Linked DNA regions of Homo sapiens: regions 1, 2, 3 and 5 are each reported to be linked to region 4. Evidence: microRNA targets listed by miRTarBase, many of them from high-throughput screens and not tested one by one. Region 4 holds a microRNA gene; each other region holds the end of a gene's coding sequence.
Evidence for each region. The annotated mature microRNA hsa-miR-508-5p reads UACUCCAGAGGGCGUCACUCAUG and lies in region 4 at 2,005-2,027, opposite strand. An mRNA with a match to its seed (bases 2 to 7 or 8) in the 3' UTR can be bound and repressed. Matches are read on the target gene's strand: a 7mer-m8 pairs with bases 2 to 8, a 7mer-A1 pairs with bases 2 to 7 and ends in A, and an 8mer does both.

Region 1: miRTarBase lists FHL2 as a target of hsa-miR-508-5p. The part of its 3' UTR that is shown has no 7-base or 8-base seed match.
Region 2: miRTarBase lists VEGFC as a target of hsa-miR-508-5p. The part of its 3' UTR that is shown has no 7-base or 8-base seed match.
Region 3: the mRNA of THOC5 is a reported target of hsa-miR-508-5p. Seed matches in the 3' UTR shown: 7mer-m8 at 1,742-1,748 and 7mer-m8 at 1,418-1,424.
Region 5: miRTarBase lists MYDGF as a target of hsa-miR-508-5p. The part of its 3' UTR that is shown has no 7-base or 8-base seed match.

Annotation. Positions count from the first base shown.
Region 1 is chr2:105,357,872-105,361,972 of GRCh38, reverse strand. It overlaps FHL2 (four and a half LIM domains 2), which reads left to right. Exons shown (of 7, transcript NM_001318895.3): 7 at 539-1,147. The coding sequence ends at 690. It also overlaps a transcript of C2orf49 not described here. Among named protein-coding and RNA genes, the nearest start is that of C2orf49, 22 kb to the right of the region's middle.
Region 2 is chr4:176,680,439-176,684,557 of GRCh38, forward strand. VEGFC (vascular endothelial growth factor C) reads right to left here. Exons shown (of 7, transcript NM_005429.5): 7 at 3,100-3,602. The coding sequence ends at 3,488. All of the region lies in intron 2 of HAFML (HuR (ELAVL1) associated fibroblast migratory lncRNA), which reads left to right. Among named protein-coding and RNA genes, the nearest start is that of HAFML, 28 kb to the left of the region's middle.
Region 3 is chr22:29,505,223-29,509,341 of GRCh38, forward strand. It overlaps THOC5 (THO complex subunit 5), which reads right to left. Exons shown (of 20, transcript NM_003678.5): 20 at 657-3,298. The coding sequence ends at 3,235. Among named protein-coding and RNA genes, the nearest start is that of NEFH, 27 kb to the left of the region's middle.
Region 4 is chrX:147,234,976-147,239,094 of GRCh38, forward strand. It overlaps MIR508 (microRNA 508), which reads right to left and starts at 2,052; the gene lies at 1,938-2,052. The region is part of intron 2 of LOC105373347 (periphilin-1); the gene reads left to right.
Region 5 is chr19:4,654,640-4,658,758 of GRCh38, reverse strand. It overlaps MYDGF (myeloid derived growth factor), which reads left to right. Exons shown (of 6, transcript NM_019107.4): 6 at 675-1,214. The coding sequence ends at 754. It overlaps TNFAIP8L1 (TNF alpha induced protein 8 like 1), which reads right to left. Exons shown (of 2, transcript NM_152362.3): 2 at 3,191-4,119. Among named protein-coding and RNA genes, the nearest start is that of MYDGF, 14 kb to the left of the region's middle. RefSeq lists a silencer at 3,978-4,027.

The DNA of each region.
Region 1 (4,101 bases), not on the chromosome of region 4:
ATTCCATTCTATCTGTCTGCAGCTTTCTCAGGATCTTCCCACTGCGACAATATCCCTCTCCCCTCATTCCCACCCACATCGCACTTTATCTGTGAGGCCTTTCCTGGCCATCCCAGGGAGGATTAACCTTTTCCTCTTCTACACTCCCTTCACTGCTTCAATCATTAAGTCATAAAAATTTGAGCACCAGGCAACGTGAGGCACCTAGTGAAGACATAAGAGAAATCTGCTCCCTCTTCTCATGGAGTTTCATTTTGTGGGAAAACACATAACAAATACACAGTCAGCATTCTTTGATCGCACTTATCCCATCGTTTTGGAACCAGTTTATATATCTCTTCTGATATTCACGAGATCCTCCAGGCTGTGCATAGAATCTGATTTACATATGGATTCCCAACACCCAGTCACTAGAAATTCACATTATCCATATTACACAATCCAAACTTTGAAATGGATCAAACCAGAATTCCTTCTTCAGTCCCAGTTGCCTGATTCTAACTTTCTTCATCCGGTATTATTTTCTCTCTGTTAACAGGACTTGGTGGCACAAAATACATCTCCTTTGAGGAACGGCAGTGGCATAACGACTGCTTTAACTGTAAGAAGTGCTCCCTCTCACTGGTGGGGCGTGGCTTCCTCACAGAGAGGGACGACATCCTGTGCCCCGACTGTGGGAAAGACATCTGAATTCAACACAGAGAAGTTGCTGCTTGTGATCTCACACACAGATTTTTATGTTTTCTTTCTCACCCAGGCAATCTTGCCTTCTGGTTTCTTCCAGCCACATTGAGACTTTCTTCTAGTGCTTTTCAGTGATACTCACGTTTGCTTAAACCCTTTAGTGCTTTGTGATAGTTCAGTCCCAGGGAAAGAGAAAACTCGCCCTAGGCCCTAGGTGGGAAGATGGTTTGAAATTTTTGTAATCGAGTAAGGCACACCCAAATGTAAAAATCCTTTTGAATGATGCCTTTATAAATCTTTCTCTCACTGTCTATTTAAGTGCAATTAACATATGTCACGAACTTGAAAGTTTTCTAAACTCAATAAGGTAATGACCAGTTGTTATTTACAGCTCTGTAACCTCCCGTTGCGTCAAGTCTAAACCAAGATTATGTGACTTGCAATAAAGTTATTCAGAACAGAATCTTTTGCCAGGCACAGAGTGTGAAATCATGATTACAGGTCGAGGCACTGAGTCTAAGTAACACTTTATTGCATGGTCCCATGGTCACTGTATGAAGTGCAGTTCCAATGTTCCAATGGCCTGGGGCATTGCCAACTGGAACAGCATCACACCCTTTAAAGGAAGCCTTCGGCTGGGCACGGTGGCTCACGCCTGTAATCCCAGCACTTTGGGAGGCCAAGGCGGGTGGATCATGAGGTCAGGAGATCAAGACCATCCTGGCTAACATGGTGAAACCCCGTCTCTACGAAAAATACAAAAAATTAGCCGGGTGTGGTGGTGAGCGCCTGTAGTCCCAGCTACTCGGGAGGCTGAGGCAGGAGAATGGCATGAACCCGGGAGGCAGAGCTTGCAGTGAGCTGAGATGGCACCACTGAACTCCAGCCTGGAAGACAAAGAGACTCCGTCTCAAAAAAAAAAAGCCTTCAGTCAGCACCAGGCACCTCTTCCTTGCTACCTTCTCTCCCTTTTTTTTTTTTTTTTTTGAGACAGAGTCTCGCTCTGTCGCCCAGGCTAAAGTGCAATGGCACAATCTCAGCTCACTGCAACCTCCACTTCCCGCGTTCAAGCGATTCTCCTGCCCTCAGCCTCCTGAGTAGCTGGGATTACAGGCACCCACCATTATGCCCGGCTAATTTTTGTATTTTTAGTAGAGATGGGGTTTCACCATGTTAGGCTGGTCTTGAACTCCTGACCTCAGGTGATCCACCTGCCTCGGTCCCCCAAAGTGCTGGGATTATAGGCATGAGCCACCGCACCCAGCTACCTTCTCTGTCTTTCCCATACTCTTTCTCTTGGAATGTAATCCTCTGCATTTGACACAGTAACATAAACTGACAGTGAAGCCAATTTTCAGGTCATTTTTCTTGGCAGAGCTTATCGGCTCTGTCCCAGTGTTATGGATCCACATCTTACACCGACTTCCATAAAGTGAAAGATTGCACAAGGACATAAGCAACTTGAGGCCAGAGACGACATCCTGTTCATCTTTATGTTCTCAACACCCTCGCAACTGAGGGCACACTGGGAGCCTTCAGTGTTTCTGAAAAGGGCAGTAAAGCAGGAGAGACACACAGTCATTACAGTAAAAATAACATTCTGAGCTACTAGTGTGGCAGTAGTCTGTGGAATAATCTCAGATAGCAGTATACAGTTGGGAAGCACGGAGCCAATGTATGGGATAGAACATTGCACAGTTCTCTTTAGAATGGGAGCATCAGTGACCTTTTTGTCCTTAGTTTTCTAAGACAATGCAATATAATAAAATGATAGGCTGAGCAACAGAAAAATTTGGTGGAAATCAAGTCTGATATATGCTGAGCATATGTGAAATCAGTTTCTTAATCTGAGTGTTAGTCACTGTTAGAATGTTTGATAATGTCTGGAATGAGTCTTTTGGTTTTATAGTTGACTTGAGGTTTTGCTTAAAAAGAATAATTTCATCCTTTGTTAGTTGTTTTGCTGTTTTCTACTTCATAATATAAAAGTAAAAGCACTCCAAATTTCATTTTGGAACATCTTACTTGTTCCTCATTAAAACCATAGACTCTCCCAACCTTAAATTACCCATTCTAAAATTAATGGTTAGGGGGAATTCCACTTCTAGTAAATAGCTCCAATTGGACTAATTCTCCTCCAAATTAACAGTCATTCTGGACAAAATATTTATTTAATTGTTAAGAACACTGGAGCACGATCCAAAGCAGGCAGATATTGGAGGGCAGTAGACACTTGGAAGAAGAGAACGACACTGGGTGATTTTCCTGTTTCGGCCTTTTATCCAATGGCAGGCCCCCGCCAGGGATCTAAAACTCTGTTAGGAAACCTGCAGTCTTACTGGCCTGAGGAACCAGAGGCCAGAGTTCGGGACAAACAGCCTCTGGAAAGTGAGGAAGAAAATCCTGAAAAGGAGAGCCCCAAGTTCGTCGCATGAACTTAGAAATTTCTGGCTGACAACTGAACCGTGTATACTTAGGCCAGACTCCAAGCAGCCCAGCCAAGGCTAAAAGCATTGACTGACAGGACTTTACAGATAGTGGTTTGCAGGGCTTAGCTGACCGACCCTCTTCCTACTGAAGGAAATTACTTGTATATAAACCACACAACACAAAGTCTCTGAAAATTTCCCCAGAAGCATACAACAAATAAACATTCATTCAGGAAAATCCACTACTAAGTCTTAGAAAGAACAGTGAGTCTGTGGCATTTGAGCCACAGCCTCATCCTATCCCATCCCCACTCCCCAGCTTCATGTGACAAACTCTATTCTGGACCAATGCAGCCAAAAATTAAGGGGTCTCTCTTCCTCCAGCTACCAGTCTAGGGCTTTGCCCCAGGTGCGACAGGCTGAGAATCGTAGAGCTCCAATTGCCCCTACCCTAGCCTGCTTAGTGCGGAGGCTCCACATTGGGAGGGGCAATCTGAGAAGACCAGCGGCTATCAACCCACTCACAGAGAAGGGATGTCAGTCCTGGAGAAGCAGGCTGCTGTCCAGCCCCCAGAGGAGATCCAGGCTCTGAGACTGGTAACCCAGCAGTTATGCCCAAGGGGACTGGTATTTGGTACGGAGAACGAGAAATCTTTGCCTAAGGGGATTGTCAAAAACAATAAGACATCTTACCAGTGAGCCATTAAGGAAGGGGCTGGTAACTCCATGCTATTAGTAGCAAAAAGCAAAATGACAGACCAGCCAGAAGTTTAACACAGAAAACCAGAGAAAGAGATAGCCAAGAAGAGCCCTCCTGGAATCTGGTTTATCCTTGAGGTTCGGGAAGTATGTATGGACAGGGCTGTATCCACTCAGGAGCAATCAGATGTGAAACAAACTTGAAAGCATTCTCTAAGGCATACACAGATCCATCAGCAAAGAGCAGAAATCTTATTAGCTCAAAGTGCTTAAGCAGAACCTCTGACCA
Region 2 (4,119 bases), not on the chromosome of region 4:
TTATGCTATTCTCATTTTTAATTTAAAAGGTAAAGTCCCTAAAAAATATCCTTTGGAAAACCTGCTAATGAAAGCTCAGATCTTGGGGACAGCATAGCAATGTAGAAGAGTGTGGGCCGAGAGACCTGTGTATTCTCTTAGCCCCAGCACTTCCTAGACAGATAAACATGGGAGCTTCAGTATGTAGGTAAGGAGTTTCATAAGCTTTGCCGTATTCATACAGCAAATGTATGAAACAATTGCTGTAATATGAACTCTCTCACCTGTTGTGTCTGTTTCTTCTCTCTCATCCACTGAGTAAAATTCCTTCATAAGCGGGGTATCCCTTGAGAAAGCCTAGTGCCTAGAGATAAGTTCATGACCCTTTCTCTTTTCTTTAAAGTGCATTCTAGGTACGTCAGTGAATTCAGTCTTATATTTGCCACTCAAACTTGTTTTGAGTGGTGTGAATACAAAGAACAAAGGTTATTTTTAGAAATTCTAATAATGGAATCTGTTTCAGCCAAGCAGTTAGTAAATGTCAAAAGCTTTCCCCCAAAAAATCTGGACGCTAACTCTTACACAACTGCTCACCAAAACAATTTTTCCTTGAGTCTTTTAAAAGGAGTATGTGCTATTAGGTTTCTGGACATAAAATTCTGTTTATAAACTTTCTAAGATTTGGAATATACTAACTGCTTTAAGATAATAACTGCTGCGAGCTTCCAGAGTTTTCTTAACTTTATCACTTAGGTTGACTGAATTGGCATCTCAGGACTTTCCTGCAAAGTTTATGAACATTCTCACTGTAGTTTTTAGCTTTTTTGCTGCATCATATTTGTTAATCTAATTAATTGTTTAGCTTTATCTTTAGTCCATTTTCTTCACTGGCTACACAACATCTCACTCATTATAATGTGTTGAAGAGGGATTTTTATGGTCCACATAAAATTGTTTGCAAGTATCTTCGGCAATATATTATCTTTGTTTACGATACTCTCACTTTTGGTCAAAATTATTACATCTCCAGGGACAAGATTAAATAGTTTTTCTGGCATGATTCAGGCTTTAGTTTTTGATTTCGTGTTTTCATTCTTTGGTTTACCCCAAAAAACTAATGTTTAGCACACGGTTTAGTTTGTTTTCAAACCTGATAACGTATGACAGTCATTGTATCAGGTTCTACTATTCTTTACATGGCCTCAGGGTGCTTACTGAAACTTAGAATATATTTTACTCCTAATTTAGCTTAAAAATTAATGAATATATCAAATGTAAAAATGATTGGCCAGATCAACAGTAACAGATTATGTAATGTTTATTTATATTCCTTTTGGCTCAAATAAGATGAAAAAATGAATCTTAGCTGAATTTCAAAGATGATGAGCATTTTATACACTAGGGATTGTGATTCCCTATAAGATGAAAAGAGGTTATTTTGATCTCAATTTTCGTTTTGTAATCACCCATTGTCAAATTTACTTTTCAAAGTTTTTTTTTTTAACTATTCTTAAGTTTGAAAACTTTCTAGACCTTAGCCAGTATGTAGAATGCCCAATGCATATGTTGACTGCTGACAAGCTTCAGAGCCATTGTTACTAAAAAATAGAAAAATAGTCTATAATTCGTAAATGAGAGTGTTTTGGAAGACTGCTTTCCTTTTCCAGGACATAAACAACTTTACTTCATGAACTAGATGATAATGCTGTACAGAGCACACAGCTGGAATTCAGTAACCATTGCACTAAAACCATTTTTTAAAGTTAGTATTGAAAACAGGATATTTTCAGGGCACTGACTTCCTAATTAAACAGTTTGAAAGAAAACATTATTTTGTAGCAAAATATATAGATACTGATATTTTGTATCATACTGATTTGTCACCTATACCAGTTAAAAATGTTTTAGTGGGCTTCTGTAGTCCCAGCTACTCGAGAGGCTGAGGCGGGACAATGGCTTGAACCCAGAAGGCAGAGCTTGCAGTGAGCCGAGATCGCACCACTGCACTCCAGCCTGGGCAACAGAGCGAGATTCCGTTTCAAAAAAACAAAAATGTTTTAGTTAAATTAATGTGCTACCTTTACATGCTTATGAGGAATATTTTCTCTTTTCAGGACTAATTATTTTTATACAGTAGTTATGATGTACCAGTATATAATTCTCTGTCAACGAACAAACCACTTATTTGGTTTTATTTATGCAGGCAAAATCTTTGTTTTAGTAAAAGGTATTTTAGGCTGGGCACGGTGGTTCATGCCTGTAATCCCAGCACTTTGAGGCCGACGTCTGTGGATCACTTGAGGTCAGGAGTTCGTGATCAGACTGGCCAACATGGTGAAACCCCATCTGCACTAAAAATACAAAAATTAGCCAGGTGTGCCGGCACGTGCCTATAATCCCAGCTACTCAGGAGGCTGAGGCAGGAGAATCACTTGAATCCGGGAGGCAGAGGTTAGGGGCAGTGAGCTGAGATCACGCCACTGCACTCCAGCCTGGGCAACAGAGCAACACTATCTGAAGAAAAAAAAAAAAAAAGATAAAGGTATTTTAGTGTAATGCCTTTTTGAAAATGAAACAAGCACTTCAATTGTGTGGCTGAAATGTTTCCTTTTAAACATGCATGAGTATTTAAATATTATTTTTAGTTTTTTTTTAAAATGTATTGGATAGGAGCACTTCCACTCACAAAAAGTATTTTAGCTGGCCAGAAAAAGTCAAATATTTGGAAAAGATTATTTTTGAGAAAATATTTAAAGCCATTTTAATATATACTGCAGGATTTTCTACCAACGTAAGATTCTGAATGTTCTCAGAGCACTGAATGACTTTTAATCACAATGCTAAGTAGTCTATCTTACAAGATGTTTCATATTGATTCACTTGGTCATAAATTCAAAAGTATCATGTACTAAAATGTTTATAATCATTAAACATATAAGAGATGAAGCAATAGCATTCTGTTGTCCTCTGACACTCTCTTTCACAGGATCATACTTTTTATCATAGTAATACATATGTGACATCTGGTTAGAGAACAAAAAAGGGCAGAGAAAGATCAGTGTCTTCATGATAGTAGTTTTCGTTCATCATGTAAGATGATAATGGACTGAACTTAGCAGCTTATAATACAATTTTCATTTTATTTTAAACATATTTTGCATGATATAAAAATATTGATCACAGTGAGTTTTACCAATTGTTGTTGCTATAAAAATGAATGCAGAAACAATATTTTTAGTGGAAATAAATTATATAGTCATTCTTTTAAAGAAATCACAAGAGGAAAATCTTGGCTGTTTGGTCATTGGCAGAAAACCAGTCTTTACAAGAGGCCTTTTGCAGATGAGCTCCAGTCCATTTCTGTAAAGTTATCCACATGGTTCAGGAAAGACAGACTTTTGTCTTTGTTAGCATGGACCCACAAGGGTCTCTCTGTTCACAGACAGTTCTACTGTGGCAACACAGTTTTCCATAATAGAAAATCGATGAACTGGAAAACAGTACAATCTTAGCTCATTTGTGGTCTTTTCCAATATGAAGGGACACAACGACACACTTCTTCACTATATGAAAATCCTGGCTCACAAGCCTTCTGGCGGTTCGTACATGGCCGTCTGTAACAGCTAGGAGAACAAACAAGAACACACTTACGTTAAAGATCAAGGCAATGGATTCATCATGCTACCAAGGTATTTCTGTGTTTTTAAATTTCAGACTGGAATAAAATTACTAATTTTATGACGAAATTGTTCATAGGTTTAAAAAAGTTTGTTTCTGCTTAGAATTACAACATTTAAGAGGAATGGAAAAGCCTTAAAATAAAAGTCTTGCTTGCTGATATAACAAATGGAAGGATGAGGTATTGTAAGCATTAGTTCCTTTGAAGTGCTCTTTGCTTCATGGGTGAAAGAAACATAAAACAGAAATTCTGAAAGTGAACACTGAAGGTCTGCTGACTTACTGTGATCACATAAGCATGGCAGAATTCACATGAGTCTGGGACTTGTATGGGACCCAGACTTCCAGGCAATTAAACCCAGCCATGTTGGCAGAACTGTGGTCCTCAGTGAGCAGCCCCACCCTCACTCTTGTGTCTCTACTTGGCAGCTGGCTGCATGACGGTGACTAACTCTTCCTTTC
Region 3 (4,119 bases), not on the chromosome of region 4:
GTTTCTAATCAGGTGCCAGGATGGGTGACTCCCACACAGGCTGAAGTTCGAGGACCTCTGAGCTAGAGAGTACCTGCCTTTGGAATTCAAAGGACTGATGTGGACTGAGGGTAGCGGTGGTGATTTAACAGCCACCAAAGGTACCATTCTCTTCTCCTTGCTAGGCTCAGGTTTCTTTTCTTTTTCTGAATGGGGACTCACTATATTACACAGGCTGGTCTTGAACTCCTGGGCTCAAGCAATCCTCCTGCCTCAGCCTTCTGAATGGCTTGGATTATAGGCATGAGCCACCACGCCCAGCAAGGATCAGGTTTTCATCCGTAAAATGAACGGCCCTGCTAGGGGCAGGAATTTATTACTTAGCTCTTACTCTTAAAATCCTTATCCCTGGGATACTCAGTGGTCGGCAGAGAGACCTGGAGGAATAGCTTTTATACTGGAGGTCTGCATTATCCATGGAAAATCAGTAAAAGTCCACTTAGGGGGAATATGCTTATGATGGGAACCAAGCTTAACAGCATGTTGTGGGGGGATAAAGTTTCATCAGGACAATCACAAAAAATAAAATGTGTTTCCTCTTGGAGTTAGCAAACTATATCTGCAACTATGTAATAATTCTCAAATATTTTTACATTTCTACATCTTTTTTTTTTTTTCCAAGACGGAGTCTTGCTCTGTTGTCCAGATGGTGCAGTGGCACCATCTCGGCTCAGTGCAACCTCCGCCTCGGGGATTCAAGCAATTCTCCTGCCTCAGCCTCCCGAGTGGCTGGGATTACAGGCGCGCACCACCATGCCCAGCTAATTTTTGTATTTTTAGTAGAGACGGGGTTTCACCATGTTGGCCAGGCTGGTCTTGAACTCCTGATCTCAGGTGATCCGCCCACCAGCCTCCCAAAGTACTGATATTAAAGGCGTAAGCCACTGTGCCCAGCCCATCTTATTTTTTAAAATGAAGAATGGAGTACTGATGGTGGGGTCAAGATACACTTTTTGACAAAACTGTCCAAGAATAGTCTATGCCATCCTTTACTTTGACTTGCAGGAGTATTACAAAGGATGTAATTTTATGAACATTTTAAAGGTTGTTACCTATCTTCCCAAGACTTCTCTTAATCAAATAATTATATTTTGAGGCACTTTTGTCATTACCTTAAAGACTCTACTCAGGCCGGGTGTGGTGGCTCATGCCTATAATCCTAGCACTTTGGGAGGCCGAGGTGGGAGGATCATTTGAGCCCAGGAGTTTGAGACCAGCCTGGGAAAAATAGTGGGATCCCGCCTCTACAAAAAATTTAAAAATTAGCCAGAAATGGTGGCACACACCTGTGGTCCCAGCTACTTGGGAGGCTGAGGCAGGAGGATCACTTGAACCCAGGAGAGGTTGAGGCGGCAGTGAGCTGTGTTCGTGCCACTGCACTCCAGCCTGGACAACAGAGCAAGACCCTGTCTCAATAAAAAAAAAATATTCTCCTCAAATGTTACCTGGTCTCACTGTCCTGTATCTCTGTATGTGATTGATTCTCCAACACCACTCTCGCCATCTCCATGAAATCCTGTAAGACTTAGAATTACTCTCTGTGAAGTACAGTTGATCTCTGAACAATAGTTTGGACTCTGTGGGTCTATTATATGCAGATTTCTTTTTTTAAAATTTTTTAGAGATAGGGACTCGCATTGTTTCCCAGGCTGGAGTACAGTACAGGCACGATGAATAGCTCACTGCTACCTTGAACTCCTGGACTCCAGTCATCCGCCCACCTCAGCCTTCTGAGTAACTGGGACTATTGGTGCATACCACCACACCTGGCTGATTTTTAAATTTTTTGTAGATACAGGGTCTCTCACTACGTTGCCCAGGCTGGACCTGAACTCCTGGCCTCAAGGGATCCTCCCGCCTTAGCTTTCCAAAGTACTAGGATTACAGTCATGAGTCCCTGCACAGATTTTGTTCAATAAAAATAACAGTGGTGCCTGCCTCCCCCTCCACCTCCCCCACTTTTTCTGCCTCTGCCATCCCTGAGACACCAAGACCAACCCCTCCTCTTCCTTAGACTATTCAACCCTGAGACAGTATGTGAAGACCTTTATGGTGATCCACTTCTACTTAATAGTAGATATATATTTTCTTCCTTATGGCTTTCTTATTTATTTATTTTTGAGACGGAGTCTCACTCTCGCCCAAGCCGGAGCGCAGGAGCGTGATCTTGGCTTACTGCAACCTCTGCCTCATGGGTTCAAGTAATTCTGCCTCAGCCTCCTGAGTAACTGGGACTACAGGCATGCGCCACCACGCTTGGCTAATTTCCATGTTTTTAGTAGAGACAGGGTTTCACCATGTCGGCCAGGCTGGTCTCAAACTCCTGACCTCAAGTGATCCACCCGCCTTGGCCTCCCAAAGTGCTGGGATTACAGACGTGAGCCACTGCACTCAGGCCCCCTTGTGACTTTCCTTATAACATTTTCTTTTCTCTAGTTTACTGTATTGTAAGAATACAGTGTATAAGATACAAAATATATACTGAAAATATGTACTGACTATGTTAGCAGTAAGTAACTACTAATAGCATACTACTGGTCAACAGCAGGCTATTAGTTAAGTTTTTAGGGAGTCAAAAGTTATACACGGATTTTTCAACTGTGCAGGGCAGGGGGTGTTGGTGCCCCTAACCCCTGAGTTGTTCAAGGATCAACTGAGTTTGTCTTCTGTTTGCACTGCACTGTCAGACATTTATAACATCCAACGATCAGAGACAATTTGTCCATCGGCAACCCTGACAGGACTAATGGGAAGAGCGGGTGGGGAGGGAAGAGTTTTGCTTTTTGTGCTCTGCTGCCTTTGGCTTCTCCTACCACCTCTTAACAGCAGGAACTTGGGATAATAAATACAAGATCATGAGGACCTCACCCCGCAAAGCACAAATAGGGTGTGCGTAGACAAGAGGTGAGCATCTCTCTGCAGAATTGGAATCTTTTTCCACTCTGCTTTTATTGGCTGCTGAGAAAAAGTCTCTCTACAAATGCTTTTTCACACTGTGTCACAGCTCCCACCTGCCCTTCCAGACTGCAAAGCCACCTTGCCAGGAACCACAGACAAAGGCCACTGGTCAGGTGACGCTTTTTAATTGGCTGGTGTCTTTGGAGAATATCAAGAGTCACATGTGGGCCAGAGCAGAAAGCAGAAGCCCAGTGCTCAGGGTGAGGCCTTGGGGGAAACAACGGTCTGCGCGGGAGATCAGCGATGGCTGAAGAATCCCTGAGGATGGTTGTATTTAAATGGCTTCATCCTGCTAGGACCCCTAGAGAAATAGGAGAACGGAGTTGTTAATAACACACCTTCTAGGCTGATAAAATAAATTATGGTTCATTCACACAAGGGAAAAAGAAGAGGCAGAGTTACATGACACAGAATGTTGTTGAGAAAAGCATACGGCAGAACAACATATAAGGTGCGATACTATTTTTGTAAAAATGTCTTTTTGTGCTTGCAAATGAGTGAACACAAACTTGGAAAGGCCCTCACTGACAGTGGCACTTCGGGGACATAGCTTTAGGCACCCTCACTTTTTAGGATTGTTCCTTTTTTTATTTTTTGAGACGGAGTCTCTGTGTCGCCCAGGCTGGAGTGCAGTGGCGTGATCTCGGCTCACTGCAACCCCTGCTTCCCGGGTTCAAAGGATTTTTGTACCTCAGCCTCCCAAGTAGCTGGGATTACAGGCATGCACCACCACGCCCGGGTTTAGGTTGAGGTTTAGTTTAGGTTTTGCCATGTTGGCCAGGCTGGTGGAACTCCTGGCCTCAGGTCTCTTGCTGCCCATGCCAGCACTCTGCATCCTGGCCGGAGAGCCTTGCCTCTCACATCTACCGGCCATAGAGTTAACTGGATCTGAGTCACTGAAGGAGCACCTTCCCAGAATGCTGACAGAGGAGCTCAGCCTGGAGACACAACAAAGCCCTTCAAGAATGGGGTCCTTTGGCCGGGAGGTGGAGGTTGCAGTGAGCCGAGATCATGCTACTACACTCCAGCCTGGGCGACAGAGTGAGACTCTGTCTCAAAAAAAAAAAAAAAAAGAAAAAAGAAAAAGAAATGGGTCCTTTGGGAACCACTGGAGAAGAGGAA
Region 4 (4,119 bases):
AAGCACCTCTCAGTACAAATCAAACCAAACGCATAAATTAAAACCAAATCAAAACCAAAGAAGAAAACTCAGATTGGAACCAACAACTAATAATTAAATCATGACAGCCCCCTCCCCCCGAAACAGGAATAAAACATTTGCTGAAACACAAACCACAATTCTAACTTAAAAAAAAAAAAAAACTTCAAGTATGCAACGAAACAACAAGCAGAGGTGCCATGAACACTGAATTGCAAACAATAAAAAATCACACTGTACCCCCAAAATATGTACAATGATTATGTGTCAGTTAAAAATAATAATACAAGCAAACAAAATAAACAAATAAACCTAAAAAGGAAGAACCAACTTTGAAAAATAAATGCACAGAGACTGGAAATGAAAGGACAATTATAAACAAAATAATATCACAAAAAACAAAAACAAAACCAAAATCAGACAGTTACCAATGTCTGGATAAACAATATTACTAAGCAAAAACAATTTGAAAAGTCCCCCCAAACCCAACCACAATATGCACATGAACGAATCAACTAACTAAATTAACTCATTTGTAAAAACCAACACACACATACTCACACACAAACTCACACCTTCTCAAAAATAAGCACAAATTTGAGAACAATTTGCAGTGGTGCCACTGTCACTGCCCCAGACACACATCTAGGGTGGTGAGACTTTCTGCCCAGGAAAACTCTTAGAGCTCATGAAATAGGGAAGAAGATACCATGAGCAGTAGACACTGGTTGTACACAGGCGATAATGTAGTAGTATTAGTGATATAAGAGAAGAATACCCTTCCTCTTGATTACAATCTAAATTTTTGCCAAGATTTGGAACGGAGTGAGACATGTCACTGACTCGAGATGACAACAAAATTCCATAAACTTCAACTTGCCCACTTAAGGTGCTTTATGAGAATTAATCCGGAAGGGGTCACCAGGATGATTACCCTCCAACCCCACTCCACCTCCATTTTTCCAGCACCGTAGTGTGTACAACCTGCTTCCTAGTCACTGCTCCAGTCTGAAGATGTTCTCCAGGGATCCGGCGCTGGCCATCTTTTGTCTGTGATTCTCAAGTTTTCTTTCTGAAGACCTTAGGTTAAGAAGGAGCAACTGAAGGGAAGTGGAAGGGAAAAGACAAATATATATGTTATCATTCTCAATAATCTGAGATGAATACCTTCACTTCTTTTTATTCCTTCATATAATTTTAAAAATAAAATGTTAAATATAATTCAAAGAAAACTAACAAAACAAATATTCTAGGCAACTTCTTAACCTTTTATAGATATGTTGAATTTAGAAAGGACTGATATACACATATTTTCAATAAATATTTTTTAAAATATACATATAAATATTTTTTAAAAATATATACATAAATATTTTATATATATATATATTTTTTTTTTAACCAACAGATAGATAATTTTGGAAATAATGTATTTTTCCAAGTAAGGAAGAACACACAAACTCTTAAGGAAAGGCTTGTCTTCAATCCTGAAAGAGCAAGAGCTTTTTGGTGCAGAGGGATGCTTCTGAGGCAGGAGGGAATTTGAAGAGCCCACTGGGAAATGAAAAGGCTTGGAAGCTAAAAGAAATGTTGTGAGGAAAAATACGTTGGAGGTTTTTCAAGGCAAAATGAATAGTTGGGCTCTGTAGCAGTAGAAGCTCTGAATATAAAAAGAGGAAAAGCCACATCCTCACTACAAATTTTCTTACCTGTGTGGGCATGCCTCCTTTGGACAAGGGTATATAAATCCCCGGAAAGCCTACATGGGTGATTTTTCCTGGGAGCCCTCAGTCCCTAGGATTTGCCTTTCAAGACCTGCCTATGGGAGTCCATTGAGTTAGCCCAGCAAGGGGAGGGTGGTGCTTGGACACAAGGGAGGGCAGCTCTGTGCATGCGGCTGTATACACTCACACCCATGGCCACCAAATATGCGTTACGTGATGTGTATTACTCTACTCCAAAAGGCTACAATCATGTTTTAGTTTACATGAGTGACGCCCTCTGGAGTAGGGCACTACACTCAGCTGAAGGTGGTGGCTCTACCCAAATATATACGTGAAGTTTAGATACGATGAAGAATTTCTAGTATGTTTGCCACTCCATTCCCATTCTCTAACCATCCTTTAGTGAGGATACTCTTACTTGCTGCATATTTCATGTGCTGATTTTGAGGACTTCTTCTCTTCAGTCGGCAACAAATAATCTCACCAACATTTTCCTATGTATTTTCAAGTCATTAGGAATGGCATATTAAAAATGATTTGTGTTCCACCAGTGTTAAAGGTCTCCCCACCCTCTGTGCCCCCAAATTCCTAGTCCCTTGGTTCAGAGTTATTTAACTTTTAACACCAAAACAACAGAGAGAACAAGGTAAACATGCAGAGAATTCAAGCAAAAGAGATAGATCATTTAGGCAGTGCCAGGATTCATAGGACAAAAATCTCATTTTCTCCACCATTCCTGGGGATTATACAGATCATTTACCTTGCCTGGAATCATTTCCAAGAGAGCAATTGGCTTAGAACCTAGTTATATCTTATTCTTCCTTCTCAGCCCTGGACTTTCTCAACATTTCCTAGAGTTCTTGTCAAGAGGGTCTCTTTCAAAATTTTCATTTGGAGACACAGGCCTCCCAGGAATCTATTTTTTCCTTTCAATACTGAGGCTGAAGAAAGGGGGAAGCAAGTAGGAGTAAGAGATCCACAGACCCCAAACTAGTTATATTTTAAGAGCTAGGGAGCCAAGTTAAACAAAAGACTGTAAAGAGAGAGGGAGGTGCACTGAATAAATTAAAGGATTAGCTAAATTACTTGCCATGGAGCAAGAGAAAGGGAGATTATGGTGTGGGACATTTAATCTGGACATGTCCAGGTCTCCCAGCATTCAGGAACCTCCACCAGTGTCAGTAGTCCAAAATGACCCAAGTCTACAGCTACACACCAATAAATCAAAACTCAAACAAAAATATTTCTAAAATCAATTCTACCTCATAAATAAGTGAAACAATGCTCAATATCACTAATTAGGGAAATGCAACCAAAACCACAATGTGATACGACTTCACACCCATTAGAATCAATATTATCAACAAGCAAACAAACAGAAAATAACAAGTGTTGACAAGTGAAGAAATTATAACCCCGTGCATTGCTGGTAGGAAAGTAAAATGGCACAGTCACCACAGAAAACACTATGGTGGTTCTTCAAAAAATTAAAGATATAATTACCATATTTCAGCAATTGCAGTATTGGGTATATACCCAAAAGAACTGAAATCAGTATTTCAAAGGGACATAGTGCCCCCATGTTCAAAGCAGCATTATTTATAATAGACAAAAGGTAGAAGCAATACAAGTGTTCATCAACAGATAAAGTGATATGCAAACTGTGGTATATGCATACAAGGAAATGTTATTTGCCCTACAAAAGGAAATAATTTTCTTTTTAAACTGGGTTTCCTTATGTTGTTCAGGCTAGAATCTAACTCTTGGACTCAAGCGATCTTCCTGCCTCAGCCTCTTGAGTAGCTGGGACTACAGTCATGTGCATACATGTCCAGCTTAGAAATAAAATTCTGACACATGCTATAACATGGATTAACCTTGAAGACAATATGCTGGGTAAAATAAAGCAGTCACAAAGGAATACTACTGTATGATTTTATTCTATTCAGTCCCTGGAATAGGCAAACTAGGAGAGACAGAAAGTAGAATAGAGGTTACCAAGAGCTGGGAATGGGGAGTCAGTGTTTAATGGTTACAGAGGTTTAGTTTGGGATAATGAATCATTTCTGGAGATGGATTGTGGTGATCATTGCACACCACTGTGGATTTACTTAATTCCACTGAATTTTACACTTAAAATGATTAAAATGGTAAATTTTATGTTTATATACATTTTACAATTAAAAAAAAATTAACCTCCAAATAATTCCAAATACCTCTGAAAATATAAGAACCCACCCCCAAAACAGATACCAAAACTAAAACAATCAGTAATAAAGCAAAAAAATACGGCCACGAAGCAAAATAAAACCACTCTAAGTAGATACATGTTGTACAGTGTTAGCAACACTAGTAGATAAAATAGAAGATACTTCCT
Region 5 (4,119 bases), not on the chromosome of region 4:
GGCTTTGAGGTTGGGACTGTGGCATGCCGAGGGGAGGCTGCAGGGGTCACTGGGAAACATCAGGGTCCTTCTTCGGTTGCCTGAGCAGCACCGGTGTCCTCAAGCCACATTCAGCTGCATGGCGCCAATGCTAAGCAGAAAGAGGAATCGGAGGCGCCGAGCTGGGGCAAGGGTGGGAGCCAAGGGAGTGGACACAGCAGGTAGGGCCGGGAGACTTGGGTGAAGCAGTGGAAGCCAGAGTTCTGACCCTGCTGGAGAAGTGTCATGAGGGCCTCAGACAGGTTCACCCACTGAGCAGGAGGTCTTGCAGCCTGACCCACCCTGCATCCTGTTCAGGCCGGGATCATCTCCTTCCTGGGCTTCTTCTGGCCCCTTTCTGCATCTCTTCTTGACAACATGGCACAAATGACCAGGGTTCTTCCCACCTCAGGTCTTTCTGTGGCTTCCTGCTGCCTGCCATCTATGTTAGCCCCACCGACCTTACCCTCCACATCACTGTTTTCCTGTCTGTCACCCGTAAGACTTTCAGTGCCTGGGGCCTTTTCACATGGGAGTCTGCTTTGGAGACTGCTCCCCTTGCCTGCTTAGCCCCCACCATGGGCCCCACCCCAAATCCTCCGGACTTCTGAGAATTTTCAATGTTGAGGGCCCAACCATGTGTTTCTTTCTTGCAGTGGCTCACAGGCCCGGGGCATTCAAAGCTGAGCTGTCCAAGCTGGTGATTGTGGCCAAGGCATCGCGCACTGAGCTGTGACCAGCAGCCCTGTTGCGGGTGGCACCTTCTCATCTCCGGTGAAGCTGAAGGGGCCTGTGTCCCTGAAAGGGCCAGCACATCACTGGTTTTCTAGGAGGGACTCTTAAGTTTTCTACCTGGGCTGACGTTGCCTTGTCCGGAGGGGCTTGCAGGGTGGCTGAAGCCCTGGGGCAGAGAACAGAGGGTCCAGGGCCCTCCTGGCTCCCAACAGCTTCTCAGTTCCCACTTCCTGCTGAGCTCTTCTGGACTCAGGATCGCAGATCCGGGGCACAAAGAGGGTGGGGAACATGGGGGCTATGCTGGGGAAAGCAGCCATGCTCCCCCCGACCTCCAGCCGAGCATCCTTCATGAGCCTGCAGAACTGCTTTCCTATGTTTACCCAGGGGACCTCCTTTCAGATGAACTGGGAAGAGATGAAATGTTTTTTCATATTTAAATAAATAAGAACATTAAAAAGCAACCCCACAGCCTGGGCCCTCCCGGCTGGCCGTTGCGGGTCAGGAGCTCAGACGCGGCTGACACTGCCCCACCGTGGGCGGGTGGGCGGTGTCTCTGGGTGGGACTTCTCTGCAGGCATCAAAGCGCTAGATCCCAAGGTGGCTGTATGTGAACTTGCCCCCTTCCCCCCTTGGCACTCGCTGTCCCTGGGTCCCCCACATGTTGTGAATTCACACCCGGGTTTCTGTGGCTGCCACAGGCCCCAGCGCGGGAGGATGTTCCAAGGCCGACCTGCTCTCTGCAGCCTGGGGCATTGGTTTCCCTTAGTTTGTTTTTCTTTTGAGACAGGGTCTTCTCCTGTCACCCAGGCTGAAGTGTAGTGGTGTAACACGGCTCACTGCAACCTCCACCTCCTGGGCTCAAGCGATCTTGCCACCTCAGCCTTCCAAGTAGCTGGGACTACAGGCACACGCCACCATGCCCGGCTAATTTTTGCATCTTCTTTTGATAGAGACAGCGTTTTGCCATGTTGCTCAGGCTGGTTTCGAACTGAGCTCAAGCAATCCACCTGTCTCGGCCTCCCAAAGTGCTGGGATTACAGGCATGAGCCACTGTGGCCAGCCTCCCGTAGTTTTTTGAAGCTGGGTTGCAACAGTGACTAAAAAACAAAAACAGACCAGACAGGATGGTTTACGCCCGTGAATCCCCGCACTTCGGGAGGCCAAGGTGGGAGAATCTCTTGACACCAGGAGTTCAAGACCAGCTTAGGCAACATAGCAAGACCCCCATCTCTACCAAAAAATAAATAATTTTAAAATTAGCCAGGTGTGGTGGGGCACACCTGTAATCCCAGCCACTCAGGAGCCTGAGGCAGGAGAATCGCCTGAACCCAGGAGTCCAAGGCAGCAGTGAGCCAAGATCGCGCCACTGCAGTCCAGCCTGGGCCACAGAGTGACACCTTGTCTCAAAAGAAAAAGAACCAGCCAGCCTTGACTTCCCAGCACACACTTGATGCCACCACATGAGGAAAGGACTGACGGCCGCACACATCAGCGGGAAGGGCCCCTAGACCAAGAATGGCAGTGCTCTGAGGTCTGAAGACCCCCCCGCCAAGGCCAGGAGGCTTTCCAGCTCTTGACTCTGAGGCTCCACGGGGCCCAGAAGATGAGCACGACAGGGTTGCCAGGGCCTCCTGTGCAGAAAAGGCCGTGGGAAACAGTGCCTACCACCAGTACCCTGGCCAAGGTAGGGGGACTCTCTCCTGGTCAGCTGGGATTCGCCCACAGCTTCTGGATCCCTGGCTGTCATCAAGGATGATGCCCGGGTGGCCTGATGCACCAGCATACATCAGGGCATCTCGGGACACACAGGAGCTTCCCCTCTGACCTTACGTGTGCATATGTGTGCTTTTTTTTTTTTTTTTTGGACAGGATCTTGCTCCATCACCCAGGCTGGAGTGCAGTGGTGCGATCTCGGCTCACCGCAGCCTCAACCTCCTGGGTCCAAGCCATCCTTCCAGATAGCTGGGACCACATGTGCATGCCACCCTGACTGGCTATAATTTTTTATTTTTTTATTCTGTTTCTGAGACCAAGTCTCACTCTGTTGCCCAGGCTGGAATGCAGTGGCACGATCTCATCTCACTGCAACCTCCGCCTCCCAGGTTCAAGTGATTCTCCTGCCTCAGCCTCCCAAGTAGCTGGGATTACAGGCACCCGCCGCCATGCCCAGCTAATTTTTGTACTTTTTAGTACAGATGGGGTCTCACCATCTTGGCCAGGCTGGTCTTGAACTCCTGACCTCAGGTGATCTGCCTGCCTCAGCCTCCCAAAGTGCTGGGATGACAGGCGTGAGCCACTGCACTTGGCCTTATATATATATATTTTTAGAGATAGGGTCTCGCTATGTTGCCCAGGGTGGTCTTGAACTCCTTGGCTCAAGTGATCCTCCTGCCTCGGCCTCCCAAAGCACTAGGTTTAACTGACATGAGCCACTGCGCCCAGGCTGGTGTGTGCTTTTATTTAAATTGTTCCGCAGTCCTATTTGGTTTGTTTCCTTTAATTAAATCTCAAATTTACAAGAGTCCAGACTGTCTGGACAGCCCAACAGGGACACAGAGAGTTTTACACACTGATGTCTCAACAGCACAGGGTTCCATCGGGACTTCGTGAGAAAATCAGGATCCATGTACGTTCTTGAAGAGCTGTCTCTCGGCCTAAGATAAGTGGAGAAGGTTGCCTTGGAAGCGTGGGGTAGAGGTAGGAACAGCTGGCTCTCTGGCCAAGGCCTTTGGCTTTTTCGCGGAAGCAAAAACCGAACCACGGGAAGGCTGCTCCGAGTCTGGGGTCAGAATTTCCTATCAGTGAGTGCAGCAGGCCAGGGAGAGGCGAAAGGGAGTGGAGAGGACTGTGGTGAAAGGGAGAGGGGCGGCCCCTGCACAGCTTCACCAGGCGTCAGTGCAGGCTCAGACGGCCGGACTGGCGAGTTTTCAAGAGAAACTCCAAATCCAGACAGGTGTGTGTGATCTCTTGGTTTTAAATGCAGACAAATTCCAAATGTCTCAAATACTGAATGGAGCCAGCTAGACCTACCTTCTCACCAAGTAAGGCCCACAGGCCCCTGCCGCAACCTCTACCCTCCACAGACAAGGTTCTGCAAAACAGTCATGGGACCTTGTTTCACCTCCCCCACAGGCACCCAAAATAACCTTCCTGACCTGCAGCAGCATTTTGCAATCTTTGAGAACCCCTGCCCCCTGCTGACAAACAAAAATGGCAAATAGACTCCCCCACACCACGCCTCCACGCCCTGAGCTGAGAATCGCCCGCATCTCGTGGGTGGTACCAGAGCCAAGACGACAGCCAAGCTTTGCTTTCTCAGCTCTGTCTTATAAAAGCAACATGGTTGGCTGGTTGGTTGCTGATTCT